2 separate regions of the Homo sapiens genome follow, and region 2 is linked to region 1. A link means that fine-mapping ties the variant in region 1 to the expression of a gene that starts in the linked region. Tissue or cell type: cerebellar hemisphere. Region 1 holds a variant in brackets; the other region holds the start of a gene. All regions are shown on one strand. Distances are between the middles of the regions.

What was found. PIP is the estimated chance that this variant, and not a neighbour inherited with it, causes the effect.
Region 2: TCF7 starts here. The variant in region 1 is fine-mapped to the expression of TCF7 in cerebellar hemisphere (GTEx, PIP 0.98).

Annotation. Positions count from the first base shown.
Region 1 is chr5:134,058,012-134,060,692 of GRCh38, forward strand. It overlaps a transcript of VDAC1 not described here. Among named protein-coding and RNA genes, the nearest start is that of VDAC1, 54 kb to the left of the region's middle. RefSeq lists enhancers at 470-1,068, 1,069-1,665. The variant T/C (reference allele first, on the strand shown) is at 1,095.
Region 2 is chr5:134,113,328-134,116,008 of GRCh38, forward strand. It overlaps TCF7 (transcription factor 7), which reads left to right and starts at 1,354. Exons shown (of 10, transcript NM_003202.5): 1 at 1,354-1,828; 2 at 1,994-2,060; 3 at 2,582-2,681. The coding sequence starts at 1,580. It also overlaps a transcript of VDAC1 not described here. RefSeq lists an enhancer at 991-1,220 and a silencer at 1,311-1,430.

The DNA.
Region 1 (2,681 bases):
TCAGCCTCCCAAGTAGCTGGAATTACAGGCACCCGCCACATGCCCAGCTAATTTTTGTATTTTTAGTAGAGATGGGGCTTCACCATGTTGACCAGGCTGGTCCAGACCTTAAATAATCTGCCTGCTTCAGCCACCCAAAGTGTTGAGATTACAAGTGTGAGCCACCACGCCCAGTTGCTTCTCACTATTTTGACTTCTGTCCTTGTTTTGTAAGCTGATGATGATAAAAAGGCTGAGTGAGTGGCCAGCGGACCCAGGTCAGCAGCCGGGCTGTCCCTGGCCAGCCAGGGACTCTGACTTTTGTTTTTTGTTTTTTTTTTGAGACGGAGTCTCACTCTGTCGCCCAGGCTGGAGTGAAGTGGTGCAATCTCGGCTCACTGGAAGCTCCGCCTCCTGAGTTCACGCCATTCTTCTGCCTCAGCCTCCCAAGTAGCTGGGACTACAGGCACCCGCCACCACACCCGGCTAATTTTTTTTGTATTTTTAGTAGAGAAGGGGTTTCACCGTGTTAACCAGGACGGTCTCAATCTCCTGACCTCATGATCCACCTGCCTTGGCCTCCCAAAGTGCTGGGATTACAGACGTGAGCCACCGCACCCGGCCCAAGGACTCTGACTCTTAAGGCCACCTGAGAGACCTTAGGCAGACCATGCATTGCACCAGCCTTGATCATGCAAACTGCATTCTAATCAGGGCCAGATAGGGAACAGAGCAAAGATGGAGCCTATCATTCCCAGGGACTGAGGGGACCTGAGCAAGCAGGGCCTTCCTGAGGCAGAGGGTGTCTGAACCTGACACAGCAACGTGACCGGCACTCCAAGGCCTCTCCACAAGCCTCTCTGCAGGGAACTGCAGCCCCAGCAGACAGTCCCTGGCCCCACCTTGCCCTCTCCCCAGGAGCTGAGCCCAACTCCACCCAGCCATCAAGGGTGGGCTTTACAATAACCGCCTCCTCATGCCCGCGTGCCAATGCAGAGGCTATGCACCCTGCATGCCAGCAGAACAGGCAAGCCAGAGTGATTCAGCACTGCCTAGATTGTGGCTTGCCAACCCATGGTCGGCAACAGGCCATGAGTCACAAATTACAGGCCTTC[T/C]GTCCTAGCAGGCTTTGCCAGCCTATGGGGTGGCAACGCTGGCAAGGAGCTCCAGAGCTCCAGGCTGAGGGCTGTAAGGAAAGAAAGGCCCAGACAGGAGCAGCAGACTGGGCACTCTTACAGCTTCCCTCCCCACCAGCCAACGTGAGGCTCCCAGGCTCCCAGGACACAGAGCCAAGGTACAGTTTCAGTGATGTGATCCCAGGAGAGAGGCTTGGACATGCTCTGACCCAGGGCTTCCTTGGCTCTAGACCAAGAGGAAGCGGCTGGCATCAGAGCCTAGCACACTTTCATTCTGCATCTTTCAAGTGAAACTATGGGAGAGCCTCCCACGTGCTGTAGGCAGTGGCCCCAGGGAAGTGGTCCTCTGCCCTCTAAGACATCCCCACACCCAGGGAGGGCCTGGAGCAGCCTTGTTCATAGGGCCAGGAAGCTAGAAGCCCGTCGCGCTGTTTCATGAGCTCCTACCAAACAGGAGCTGACCCCACAGGCCTCTGAGCATCAGCACACCCCCGAGCCATTTGGGCATCCTTGTCCATGACAACAGGGTTTCCAGAATTTTCAAGAGAACTGGGTCATTATTTTGTGCTAGTATAATGAAGCCAACCACACCCTATACCCCCCACCTCAATCCTGCCCCCAACAAAATTCCTTTCAGTTCAAGAACTGATTCTCAGCAACAGCAAACTTAAATGCTACCCAAATTTGATGTCTTGTTTGGGTTTCTTTGTTATACATGTTTGATTGTGTGGCTGAAGGTGACGCAGAGAGGCACAAACAGCAAGGAATGAGAGCCAAAGCCAGGCTTGGGCAGAGGCCCAGGGAGACTGTGTGTCTCCTTCAGGAGCAATCACACCCACCCCCAGGACTCTGAGCATCTCTAAAATCCACAGGCCTTCTGCACCCTGCACGCCCTCCAGGGCTGTTCCACAGAGATCCTCTCCCACACCCCAGGGCCCCTGCTAGTGATGCTGGCCTCATCAAGTACATGGAACAAGCCAGATACAGACTCTAATGAGCACATGTTGGGCACAGTAAAGCCAAGAGTCAGAAACTGATCCTGATTTCAGCAGCTGGAAACTTTGTGCCATTTCTTAGGAACTAATAATAATAATACTGGTCACCACTGAGTGCAACTGTGCTCCAGCTACCACGTTGATGCGCTGCACGCACCTCATCCCAGCCAGGGATCGACCACCCGTCCAATGCAGGTGTCTGCATCCCCAGCACCTGGCACAGTGCCTGGCACCAGGAAGGTGCTCAGGAAATATGAATGAATGAATAGTAAGGTCAGTACACATTAGGAAACCAAAAAGCTTCCTAGTCATTTCCAAACATTTCTTTTCCAATAATCGTGTTTCTTATTAGAGATATATGATACACTTGTGAATAGACATATTTTGCCTTTTTTAAAATTTGGAAGCATTTCAAACACATTGAAAAGTACAGAAAATAATATGATAGCTCAAACCCTATTTTAAAATATCAAAGAATTTATAACTGCAACATTCAGAATAGAGCTTGCTTGTAGGCTGGAAGACAAAGGATGGGGAAGGAGGATACAATAGTAAAATGGTCTTGGTAAAA
Region 2 (2,681 bases), 55 kb after region 1:
GGGGCTGGTGTCCGAGACACCCGGCTGGGCGGGCACAGATAGGATCTGAACACAGGGAAGCATGGCCTAGCTCTTTGATCCACAGCCAGCCACGCTGGGCCTGGACCCGGAGGGAGGCACGGCTGTCTTCCGGCCCGGCTTTGCACCGCTGCCAGGGGTCCTGTGGGGCCCTCAGAGGGAGAGGCGTCCAATACCCGGCCCTCCCCCAAATACCCTCTATCCCAACTGCTCTCAGAAGAGGCGTGAGCGTCTACAGTGAACCCAGCACAGAAACCTGCTAGGGGAGCTGCTGTTGACTGCATCGCGATCCAAAGGACCGGCGTCTTTTGTAGATGCAGGGGCTGAGCCAGGCCAAGCGCGCCGTGGAGGCCCGCGTGGACGCAGACCCGGGTGCCATACAGATGCGCTGGAATCCAGGCACTTTCCCGCGCTCCGCAAATCTAGATGTTTCAGCCTGGATCGAGCGAGGGTTAGAGGGTTAGTCAGGCCAGGGTCAACTTCAGAGTCATGGGCTCCCTAAATGCGACTTCTAGGGTTGAGTTGCTGTGGACGAGCGACCCATGTCGGAATCCCGCGCCCACGTGGCTGCCCAAAGTTCCGAGTCTCCGGGCTGCAGGTTCTAGTCACGGAACCGAGTTGGGAGAGTCATAGGGGCTGGGACTTGGAGGATCGGCTGAGGTCCGGTGCTCTTGGCTGTGTTCGCGGCTCGGAGCCGTCGCCTGACTGAGGGGCCCGTCACAGATGTGTGATGTATAAGCTCTGCACGCAACAGGAGCTCAATAAATGTGCGAAGGGGGGTATACTTATGTTCGCACTGTATGCAGGCGGCCTAGAAGGAAGTCCCTGATTGGCACAGGGATGGAGGATGGGGCAAGAGCCGCAACAGCGCCGCGGAGTTCCAACGCTGCCGGTTCCCTGGGGTACGAGCACAGCCTCAAGCAGCCTCAAGCCCTAGGAAGCCCCCAGTTCAAAGCACAGGGCGCATTGGAGCCTGGGCACGATACAGTTCACACCACGGCTGCGATGGTAAGCCACGCCCAAGTCCCAAGGGCCTAGGGGACCCCCGCCCTCCACAGCCGGAGGAGAAACCTGGGCGCAGAAAGCAGGGGGAATATCTGGTTGTAGGTGAGTAAGCGGGGTCAGGAGTTCCCGTTAGAGTCTCTGCGTTTCGGGAGAAGGGTGATCATTCCCAGGCTTGTCCGACGTCTCTCTCAGGGTGCGCTCCGGAAGAGCGAGCCCTTTAAGGCTATGCCGAGTGGGCGCGTCCCGGCCTCTCCCGGGAGAGGAGAGGCGGGGCGGACCTGTGTCCCGCCCCCGGCCCGGCCCGCCCCCAGTGCCCGCCCCGCCCCCGGCACTCGGCCGGCGGCGCCTTTGATGTTCCGACCCGCCAGCTCGCGGAGCCGCTCTGCCCCGCGCCCTAGCCCGCGCCTGCAGCCCGCCCAGGCGGAGTCAGCCCGCGCTCCGCCCGCCGCGATCCGAGCTCGGAGGTTCGGACTCCGGGCTCGCCGCCCCCCGGGCCGGCTCCGCGCCCCGCACTCCCGGCGCCCAGCGCCCCGCGCCCCGGCGGGCGGAGCGCACCATGCCGCAGCTGGACTCCGGCGGGGGCGGCGCGGGCGGCGGCGACGACCTCGGCGCGCCGGACGAGCTGCTGGCCTTCCAGGATGAAGGCGAGGAGCAGGACGACAAGAGCCGCGACAGCGCCGCCGGTCCCGAGCGCGACCTGGCCGAGCTCAAGTCGTCGCTCGTGAACGAGTCCGAGGGCGCGGCCGGCGGCGCAGGGATCCCGGGGGTCCCGGGGGCCGGCGCCGGGGCCCGCGGCGAGGCCGAGGTGAGCCCCCGCCGGCGCCGGCTCCTCCCCCGCGGTCGCCGCGCCGCGCCGCCCCAGTTGCGCGCGGCCCTCGGGGTCTCCAGCGCGCAGAGCGTCCCTGCCCCGGCGTCGGCCCCGACCCCCGCGGTCCCACCGCCCCTCACTCCCCTCCGGTTCTCCCTCCAGGCTCTCGGGCGGGAACACGCTGCGCAGAGACTCTTCCCGGACAAACTTCCAGAGCCCCTGGAGGACGGTGAGTTTCTGCCCGGCCCGGCTTCCCTTCGTCGCGCTCAGGCCCTGGCCTCGGTGGGACGGGGACGCCAAGGACCGCGGGGAGCCGGGTGCCTCCCCCACCGCAGCTCAGGAGGCGGCAGAACCCAGGGGTGGAGAGTGGGGGGCGGGCTTCCCGGGCGCCGCCGGGTCGAGTCACTTCCGGTGCCCTGACCTTTATAGGAGTAAACAGACCCCCGCCATCCCCGCCTCCCCTCCTGCCCAGGTGACTGACTAATCCGCCGCCTTCAGGAGACAGAATTGGCCAAGGTTTCTTGGTTGGAGGGCGGGGGGTGGGAGGTCAAGTAGGGGCCACCTCGGGGAGGCCTGCCCTCCAGGTCCTTCCCCTAAAACTTGGCACTGCCGATACTCCCAGCCCGTTCCTTCCCAAGTCAGGAACTTGCAGGGGACCCCTTGGCAATTCTTTTTCTCTCAAGAGCAGACAGCCTTCAGTCCCAGCCGCTGCCAGGGCTGGTGTGTCTGACCCAGCTGTGGTTTTTCCAGGCCTGAAGGCCCCGGAGTGCACCAGCGGCATGTACAAAGAGACCGTCTACTCCGCCTTCAATCTGCTCATGCATTACCCACCCCCCTCGGGAGCAGGGCA